2 separate regions of the Homo sapiens genome follow, and region 1 is linked to region 2. The links come from fine-mapping of genetic effects on gene expression. A gene starts in region 2. The other region holds a variant in brackets. All regions are shown on one strand. Distances are from middle to middle.

Region 1 (5,370 bases), 46 kb before region 2:
CACCATGGCTAGGGGAAGGATAGGAAGGAACTCTTTTTCCTTGGAAGGGCACCAGGAAACCATCCTGGCCTACGATCCTGCACCATAGAAAACAGAGGCCTTGGCTGGGTGTGGTGGCTTAACACCTGTAATCCCAGCACTTTGGGAGGCTGAGGCGGGTGGATCACAAGGTCAGGAGTTCAAGACCAGCCTGGCCAAGATGGTGAAACCCTATCTCTACTAAAAATACAAAAATTAGCCAGGCACAGTGGCGGGCACCTGTAATCCCAGCTACGAGGGAGTCTGAGGCAAGAGAATCGCTTGAACCCAGGAGGTGGAGGTTGCAGTGAGCCGAGATCATGCCGAGATCATGCCACTGCACTCTAGCCTGGGTGACAGAGCAAGACTCTGTCTCAAAAACACCACCACCACCACCACCACCACCACCAGAGGTCTCTTCTCACTGGGGAAGGGACAGGACAGTCACACCCAAGACCCCGACAGAGTTTGCCACAGGGAAGAGGGGTAGGAATGCTGGGGTGAAGGGCACAGGGAAGGGCCTGTCTAAACTGAGGCTGGACCAGTACACAGAGAACCCACCCCAAGCCTTGAACATAACCTTGGTAGAATAACAAGCAGCAGCTGTCTACTGCCGAGAGAAAGTGGGGTAAGATCCATGCTGCAGCACAGGCAGGCAAGAGAAAGCTGAAAGCAGAGGGTGGGGCACCACACTGAGGAATCTCCTCCAGTGCCCTAGTCCCAACCCTGGGCACAAGGCAATGACAGCTCATTGCTAGAGGTACTTGAGGCCTATGGTACATTGAAGATAACCATAACAATGACAAATCCCAAACCCAGCTCAATTCCTAACAAGATTGACTCAAATCCCACACTAACGGTCTGACAGAAGAGGATTACCCATTTCCATATGTAAATACTATTGACCGTAGTCACCTCTGTTCTATACATGAATGTTCAGTATTCAATAAAAATTATATATTTTTTGTTCAGAAGCAACAAAAAACAACCAACCCATTGTCAAGAGGCAAAACAATGAATGGAGTTAGACTCAGAGACGACCTAGATGTTGTAACTATCAGACAGTTATGTTAGAATGGCTAGTATGACAACGGGTCTAGTGGAAATGGCAGACAATATGCATGAACAGATGGAGAATTTAAGCAGAGAAGTGAAAACTCAAAGTCAAAGACAGTTGCTAGAAATAAAAAGATATGGCATCAGAGAGAATTCCTTCAATGGGCCCATCAGCAGACACGAAAACTGAGGAAAGAGAGAAATTGAAGATGTCAGTAGAAATTAACCAAACTGGAACACAAAGAGAAAAAAAAGTGAGGGAAAACCAGAGCATCCAAGAACTGTGTAACATGACAATCCTATAAATGACATCAACCTCAACTCATAATGTGAGAGTCCCAGAAAGAGGAGAGGGAATGGAGCAGAAGAAATATTTGAAGAGATAATGGCTCAGGCTTTTAAAAAAATAATGAAAGACATAAAATCGCAGATCCAAGAAGCTTGGAGAACCTCAAGCAGGACAGAAAACAAAGCAGCTACAACAGCAAACAACCAAATAGACACATCAAACTCCAACTGCTGAGCACCAAAGAAAAAGGAAAAAATCTTGAGGTCAGAGGAAAAAAGACATACAGAAGAACAGTGAGTTACAGCAGATTTCTTAATTTCTTATCAGAGGCTTGTCATGTGGGAAGACAATGGGCAACATCTTGAAAGTATTAGAGGTTGCGGGGAGGGGAAACACATTTGTCAGCCTGGAATTCTATACCTAGAAAAAAATACCTTTTGAAAATGAGGTTGAGGCTGGGCACATTGGCTCACACCTGTGATTCCAGCACTTTGGGAGGCCAAGGCAGGCGGATCACTTGAGGTCAGGAGTTCGAGACCAGCCTGGCTAACATGGTGAAACCTCATCTCTACTAAAAATACAAAAATTAGCTGGGCATGGTGGCAGATGCCTGTAATCCCAGCTACTCGGGAGGCTGAGGCAGGAGAATTACTTGAACCTGGGAGGCGGAGGTTGCAGTGAGTTGAGATCACGCCATTGCACTCCAGCCTGGGTGACAGAGCAAGACTGTCTTTAAAAAAAAAAAAAAAAAAAAAAAAGAGGTTGATATAAGAACCTTTTGAGAAAAAAGCAGCTGAGAGAATTCATTGCCAGCAGACCTGTGCTACAAGAAATGTCAAAGAAAGTTCTTCAGTGATAAGAAAGAGTTTGAGATCCACATAAATAGATGAAGGGCTCCAAAAACAGTGAAAATGAAGACAATAGAAGGGTACTTTTCCTTATATTTAATCTAGAAAGTGAGTAAATGGATCAGAGGCCATAAATTAAATGTGAGGAGACCCCTGGGGGCTTTAAGAGGCTATACAGAAAAAGTAGGGGCCTCTCCGGCATCCCAGCACCCCTCTACCCCCGCCCCTATCGTACGGTCACTGTTTTTCCTTCCTGGCTGCCCTCTAGGTCACTGCCCTGAGTGTGCAGGGCCTCCCTTAGCCCATCCAAGAGGCCTAGTAGATGAGGCATGAGGAGGGAGAGGCAGCAGAGAGTGTGCCGTGCCTGTAGGCATTGGGGTGTGTGGTCTCTCCAGGTGAACAAGGACTCATGTTTCAAGAAGAAAACAGAAGTGGAAAAAGCCACA[T/G]GAAGTCGTGACGGTTTGAGTCTCATCGTGGGGGAAAAACGAATGAGTGCACGTTATGTGGCCGGTCCATGGTAAATGTTAGACGTGTTATTGTTGCTGAAAACCAAGTCCAGCCTTCTCAACTACAGGGCTAAACAGTGAGAATGCTGCCTTTTTTTTTTTTTTTTTTTTGAGACAGAGTCTTGCTCTGTTGCCCAGGCTGGAGTGCAGTGGTACAATCTCAGCTCACTGCAACCTCCGCTTCCCAGGTTCAAGCGATTCTCCTGCCTCAGCCTCCTAAGTAGCTGGGACTACAGACATGGTCCACCATGCCTGGCTAATTTTTGTATTTTTAGTAGAGATGGGGTTTCACTATGTTGGCCAGGCTGGTCTCGAACTCCTGACCTCAGGTGATCTACCCTCCTTGGCTTCCCAAAGTGCTGGGATTACAGGCGTGAGCCACTGCATCTGACCAATGAAGCCTGCTTTGAATGATGATCCTCTCCCATATCTCAGACCCACCAAACCCGCAGGCAGTTTAGTTTTTGGTGTTCTGCAGATCCAGTGACACATGATCCTGAACACTGACCCCTGTCCTCTGAGGAGCGGAGCTGTGGCATTTTTAGGAGGAGCTATTGCCATCTCTGCACTGGCCAAACAGAACAGGAAGGAGCGGATGCAGGAAGCCACGCCACCACAGAACCCACGCCGAGGCCACGCTGAGGCAGATAGGGCCGTGTGTGGGTGGGCTATTCTGGGATCAGGCACTCTCTCCTTGATATGTCAGCCTTCTGGATTGCAGTGCCACCCACGTCTAAAAATATCTCTAATGTGCAGTCGGCTGCCCACTTCATCCTGTTTATTTATACAGAAGTGACAGCTGAAACTTTCAATAAATGTTGTGAGCTCCGTCAGTGAGGATGTGATAAAAGAATTCCCCTCAGAGTACAGACATTCTTCTGCCCAAAAGAACACAGAACGGACTGAAGGACCCAAAATAGTCATGAAAAATACACCCTGGCTTTAACTCCCTAAAGTTTCAGTTCTCGTGTCACTGAGTAATTATCCTTTTTTGGCTAGGACCTTCTATTCTGGGGCTCGAAGCAAACTTTGCTTGGAATGTTCCTGAATCCTATGGTGGGAGTTTCCAGCATATCTGGGTCCCAAGTCAAGGCCCGACACCACTGTTCATGGTTACTTGCTGGTAAGAAAGTGTGATCACTGATGCTCACAGGTGAGTCATCTACTCTGGGGACACCCTGGGTTGCAGTTGTCCCCCAGCTACCCCCGGCTGGCCCTAATATGAAATATCTGAGCCTGGGCCCTGTCACCCATAGACCTGGGTTCAAATCCCAGCTCCACCTCTTACCCAGAGTGATCCTGGAGACCTCATTCGCTTGTTCAAGTCTTAGTCTCCTATTAAGATAAAGATACAGGTCCTCACTTGACTGGCTCATGACGTATACATTTCTTGTCCTTTTTGAGTTTATACTTAAGCAAAAGGTGACCAGGCAATGTGTGTCTAAATTGTCAGAAAATCTGAGGGGAAAGCACTTTTGGCTTTATATTCGCTTTTTAAAATTTATTTATTATTTTAGACAGCGTTTTGCTCTGTTGCTCGGGCTGGAGTGCAGTGGCACGATCTTGGCTCACTGCAACCTCTGCCTCCCGGGCTCAGGTGATCCTCTTGCCTCACCCTCCAGAATAGCTGGGATTACAGGCGTGCACCACCACACCTGGCTAACTTTCATTTATTTATTTATTTTGATTTTTATTCTATTTTTGAGACAGAGTCTTGCTCTGTTGCCCAGGATGGAGTCCAGTGGCATGATCTCAGCTCACTGCAAGCCCCACTTCCTGGGTTCATGCCATTCTCCTGCCTCAGCCTCCCGAGTAGCTGGGACTACAGGTGCCCGCCACCACGCCCTGGCTATTTTTTTTTTTTGTATTTTTAGTAGAGACGGGGTTTCACCGTGTTAGCCAGGATGGTCTTGATCTCCCGACCTCGTGATCCGCCCGCCTCAGACTCCCAAAGTGCTGGGATTACAGGCGTGAGCCACTGAGCCCGGCCCAATATTTCTTCTAGAAATACAAATGACTACTAAGCATGTGAAATGAAAGACCAAACATCCAGATGGCACTCCTCTTAAAAAGGAGAATGCTAGGCTGGGCGTGGTGGCTCACACGTGTAAACCCAACGCTGGGGGAGGCCTAGGCCGGAGGATTGCTTGAGCCTAGGAGTTTGAGAGCAGCCTGGGAAACATAGTGAGACCTTGTCTCTACAAAAAAATACAAAATGGCTAACACAGTGAAACCCCAACTCTACCAAAAATACAAAAAATTAGCCGGGCGTGGTGGCGGGTGCCTGTAGTCCCAGCTACTCGGGAGGCTAAGGCAGGAGAATGGCGTGGACCTGGGAGGTGGAGGTTGCAGCGAGCGGAGATCGCACCACTGCACTCCAGCCTGGGTGACAGAGCGAGACTCTGTCTTAAAGAAACAACAACAACAAACATTTGCCAGTGCTGGGATGCACCTGTAGTCCCAGCTAGTTGGGAGGCTTAGGTCAGAGGATCACATGAGCCCAGGGAGGTGGGAGATTGAGGCTGCAGTGAGCTATGTTCCTGCCACTGCACTCCAGCCTGGGCAACAGAATAAGACCCTGTCTCAAAAAAAAAGAAAATAATGCTGAATGCTAGTGAAGGTGTAGGATACTGAGGCAGGCACTCATAGCAAT
Region 2 (5,370 bases):
GTCCAGCCTGCGGCCAGTCTCCTCCCTGGGACCATCTGGATGGCCAGGCCTGGCTCAGAGACCACTGAGGGCCAGCCCACCATACCACAAAGACCGTCAGGAAAGAGGGGTTCTAGGCCTGAGTTGGGGGTGGGGGCACTGGCAGGGGCACTGGCAGGCAAGCCCGAGGGGCTTCACTCTCTGGGCTCAGCATTTCCGCTGGAATTCACACTACACATGGCACCTGCATCACACAGTCAGCCAGACGCCAGTTGTAACTGATTAGAAGCTATGAAATGGGCGCATTCTGGGGAAAAAAATCAGGACAGACTTTTCCAACTAGCCTTAACTAAAGATTCCACCTAAAACATTTCCCGGAGCTGAATCTACCATTTGCACTGTGGATATAAATGTTTCTCAACAGCCCTGGCCTCGGACTGGTAATAAGCACGCTGACAGGCATGCGCCTGTGGAAGGAAGACAAAAATCCAGAAATTTCTTCCTGCAGCTAGACACACAGAGAGGGTAAACAAACACACTGAGTTGATTAACAAATAAGAATCCTTCAGATTTGGACTTTGGCATGAGAACTGTGTCCAGATTTAAAACCGCATGGCAATCTGAAGCAGTCACATAGCATTTCCTGTGATGTCCCTGTCATTCCAATTCTACTTGTATTTATATAAAGTCATACATTTCAATTAATGTTGCAGCCATTAAAAAAACCCCTGGCTCCCACGTGACAGCCAAGGAAGGCATGCGTTTCCTAGGACAGGTGACTGAGTTCATGTGTGACAGCACCAGCCAGCATTCCCTGAGTGAAGATGGACTCGAAAAACCAGGGGCTTCTAACGCATCCTTCTTTCCTGGTTAACGAACAGCTTTTCGGTGTCTATACACAAACTTTTCAGAATGCATGTAGAGTCTCCAGTAAACAGAAGAGTACACAGGATGCTCAGAGGGAAAAGAACTATATATGGATCCTAAGTTTTTTTTTTTTTTGAGACGGAGTTTCACTCTTATCACCCAGGCTGGAGTGCAGTGGCATGATCTCAGCTCACTGCAACCTCTGCCTTCTGAGTTCAAGCGATTCTCCTGCCTCAGCCTCCCAAGTAGCCGGGATTATAGGTGCCTGCCACCATGCCTGCCTAATTTTTTTTGTATTTTTAGTAGAGACGGGGTTTCACCATGTTGGCCAGGCTGGTCTTGAATTCCTCACCTCAGGCGATTCACCCACCTCAGCCTCCCAAAGTGCTGGGATTACAGGCGTGAGTCACCATGCCTGGCCGGATTATGAGATTCTTAATAACTACCTAAGACAAATAGCTTGATTGTAAAATTGTCACAGATAAGTTCTTAAACCTGTAAACTAGAGTACTTAAAAAAATTCCACATTGCCATTCTTGGTAGCAAAATCTTCATCACCAAGGAGACCTGGCTAGTGCTACAGCTTGGGAAGGAAACAGCCTGTGCTCAGTAATTCTACTAATTACAGCTGGGCTCCAATGACATTAATTTACTGATAACCTCATAAAGTTTTGTTTGTTCTTCCAAGAGATAACATTAGCCAGGCCACTCAAAATAACGTTAAAATTACAGGACTTTGGACTTTCGGCAGAACATGAATAGTTTTCTCGGTAAACAAGGAAGGTCTTTATATGTGATCGTGACATAGTGTTTTATTTACACAAGCTTTAGAGGGTTCAGCCTCTGGACACTAGTAAAGAACGTTTATTTATTTGGTTATTTATGTAAAAAATATTCCACAACCCAGCTCTCTGCCTTGCTAACAAAGAAATGTTTGTTTCTTAGTAAATGAAAACAGTGAAGGCCATGTCAAGCCAAATGGAGAGAATAAAATTACTGCGAGATTCTGCTTTCCACGTAACTTCAGCCAAAACTCTAAAGTGGCAAGATCCGCTTTCAGATTATATTATATCGGCCTCTGAGGATTCTATGCAGATCTGCCACCCCTTGGAGAGGTTTACAAATAGGGAACAGAAATCCATGGCTCCCAAGAAGCCCTGGCCCCTCTCCTCGCTGGGCCACGAACCACTCCCCCAGCTACAACAGCGCCGGTGGTCCCTGCTTGCCCAGTGCCAGCGCCAAAGAGGTCTTGTGCGGCAGGTGCCTCTGACCAACATCACTGTTTCCGGGGAAAGGCCACACATACCAGAAACAACTGCTCCGGCCTTCCCAGGGACACTGGGTTCTCCCACGCCAGTAACCTATTCACAGTTTCCGTTAAAAGGTAGCTAAATACACGGAATAATGCAATAGCCAAAGCGGTTTAGAAGGGGCTTGAGTTAGCATTTTAGGAACACATTACAGACAAGGGAAGTGAACAGCACCGTTTCTTGCCGAGTGTGTGGCCAGTTCCTGTGGCCATGAGGCTGCCGCTAATCTCCACTTCTCCCTCCAAGTGGAAAGCCAAACGTGTTCCACCACTTCACCAAGGGACCCGTCCTTCTTTAAATTTCTATTAGCCAAAAGTGCCAAGTTAACAAGCAAACCAAAAGAAAAAAGAAAAAAAGCGATGGAAGTGTCCCGAAAAGGGCTGGCCTCATTTCTGCAAAAGACGTGATTTGCAAACAAGCAACTGCTGCAGGCGACAGATTGTCAGTGTTGACTAATTTCCATACAAACCGGCTGTGGTTCTGATTCCCGAACACTGCGTCTTCTGCAAGGTGCCCGTCTGCAGGTTTTGCAACGCGGGACGGCCTAGGGAAGGGAGCCTGCGCTGGCAGTCACCGCGGCGCACAGCCTGAGAAACGAGGTGCGGGGCTGGGGAACCCCGCGTCCTGTTTTTCCTTCTGAAAACTAGTTCTCCAGTGTGCAGGGCTGACTCACCCCACGCTTTCCAGAATGCCCGCTCTCCGACGTCCCCAAAGCCGTCCCTTCCCCGGCGAGAAGCGCAACACCGGTCCGCGCCCTCCGCCTCCCCTGTGCCCTGGGGCCTCCCGCCTGGAACCGGGGCGGCCCGCGTTCAAGGGCAGCGGATCTGTGCGCCCGCGGCGCCCGCCCCCACCCGCTCCCACCCGCTCCCACCCGCTCCCCTCCTCTCCCCTAGAGGACACCGGCTGGCCAGGGGAAGGGAGCTCGGCCGGGACCCCTGGACCTACTCACCCAGGAGCAGCCAGAGGCCGCGCCGCGGGAGGCGGCACAGGGCCCGGGCCATGGTGCACAGCGGTGCCGAGTCGAGTCCGCTCGCCACGCGCCCCGCTGAGGACTGAGCCCGCCGCGGCGCGGGCCCGGAGGAGACGCGCCGGGGGCGGGAGCGGGCGCGGGAGCGGTGGGAGGCGGCGGCCGCGCGGCCCGGCCCACTGCGGCTCCCCGCGTGGGTGCCAGGGCCGGGGGCGCCCAGGGCCGGTAAAACTTTGCAGGGGGGCCGCGCGGGCGTCTCCAGGCCCCTCCCGGGGGGCGGCACACTTGGGGTCCCAGGAAGGCCTCCTGAAATGTTCTCCGAGCAAATAAACACTTTTTAAACTAGGGAGGGTCTCCTAGACGACTCAGCGTGAGGGGCACCTTGGTCTCCACCTGGGGATCTTCCCCTCCTCCTCCTCCGAGGTTCTGGGCGTTCCTGCCTGGTGTTTGCCTTGCAAAAGGCTAAGATCTCCCAGCCTTATCTACCTCTCCGCCCAGGTGCAGGCGCTGGGGAGCGTGGGGGGCAAAACTCGCCACCGCGCCTGGCGAGACCCGTAGTAACCCAAAATGGCGCACACTTACCAGGCCCTGGAATGCTGCTCCAGATCTGCAGGATGAGTGGGTGGGCAGAGGCGGGGACAGCACGGCAGGTGAACAGAAGCCGTGGGGCTGGAGGAACAGGGCTCTTTGGGGGGATTGAGATGGCCTGGGAGTCTTGCTGTTGATGGGTAGGTAGCGAGAGCCTGGCAGGAGGTTGTGAGGGCCTGGCCACAGAGTCTTGAGATGAGGTTTGCTTTGGTGGCACTCTGGCAGCTGCATGGAAAACTGATGGGGGATCTTGGGTACATTCGTTTATGTAAAGTGGTGAGAGGAGGGCGCTCTGGAGATGGGCCGGGGAAGCCTGCGGAGGAGCAGGTTTTGGGAGGCACAGGCCTGGCCTCTCGGCATTACTGGTGGCTGGATTTCACTTGCAGTGGTTCCTTCTTGTATTATCCTGTTCCGAGAACTCTTAGCAACAGTAAATTTATACTTGTGCTAAGGAATGCACCACTGCCCTTGGAGGGGGAAGAATCACCACCCTGGTGCTGCGGCCACAGCTGTCTCTTTTGTGGTGGAAGCTGCAAGCGCACAGCATTGCTGAGTGACCATCGTTTTCTCCTAGGAAAGGGAACAGTCTGTGGCTGAGAGGCTGCTGCCACCTGCAGTAAGCTCAGAGAAGGGGAGACAGCTGACAGCGAGGTCATCCACTGGTTCTTCTAACACAGGCTGGGAGGGCACTCAGGGCCAGCATGCCTACCACCTGTGCAGGGGCCCCAAGTGTTCTGAGAGTGAGGGGTGAGATGGTGGGGGAGGGCACACATTCTCTTGACTTGATTAGCCCTTGTTCTTGAACCCTAGGAGATACACCCCATTGGGTGGCCTGGCATCCCTACTTTCTTCATTTAACAGACATTTGTGTCCCTATGTGCAAGACACTGTTAGATCGACAAGCCCTGCCCTTCAATTGGTGAATCTAGGGGGTGACCTCTAAGACTCTCAATAACATGAGCGCCACAATACAGGAGCCACCCGGAACAAGGGACACTCGCCTCAGCTGCAGTGCAAGTAAGGAGACAAAGGATTCTGGACAAAATGCAGCCCAGGCAGTCCTGAGGGCTGGGTGGAGAGAAGGGCACAAGGGAAATGCAGGCCCGAGCACAGGCCTGGCAGCCAGAGGCCGTGCCATGTGAGAGCAGCACAGCTAGTGGGGAAGGGTGGCTGCCAGCACAGCCCTGGGACAGGGCCACCGTACATCCTGCACTAGGCGATGGCCAGTCATAGTGGGGGAGAAGAACCTGCATCTTTCTGCAGCCATCACTCGCCCTCCATATCCAGGGACTCTGGCTTGAGCCACCCTTTCTACTTGTAGCTTGTGGACTTTGGCTGCATGTTTTTGGTTGGCAACTGGGACTCCTCTTTCATCAGGCTCAGCAGGAGTCTTTCTTCCCAACGTTTTCTCTTTGAAGCTTGACTGCAAGGAGGCAAGGCCAGAGGCCCCTGTCACTGCTGTTTTCTCAACACCCCCTAAAGGATACATTTTCCTAAGAAGACAAAGCCTATTTCTCAAGTTCACATGCTTTAGAAATTCACAGTTCTCTGGAGAATGCTGAAGTAAGGCACACACCTAGAGGCATGTTCTCTCCTAATGATTTTCCTGTCTGTACCTTGGGTCTAAGTAAGACATTCCTTAGCAACTACTATGGGCTT

The links.
Region 1: its variant is fine-mapped to the expression of RAMP1 in whole blood (TOPMed, PIP 0.99).

Annotation. Positions count from the first base shown.
Region 1 is chr2:237,903,469-237,908,838 of GRCh38, reverse strand. The region is part of intron 2 of RAMP1 (receptor activity modifying protein 1); the gene reads right to left. Among named protein-coding and RNA genes, the nearest start is that of RAMP1, 47 kb to the right of the region's middle. The variant T/G (reference allele first, on the strand shown) is at 2,658.
Region 2 is chr2:237,857,463-237,862,832 of GRCh38, reverse strand. It overlaps RAMP1 (receptor activity modifying protein 1), which reads right to left and starts at 3,210. Exons shown (of 3, transcript NM_005855.4): 1 at 3,106-3,210. The coding sequence starts at 3,157. RefSeq lists enhancers at 3,823-4,609, 4,610-5,370.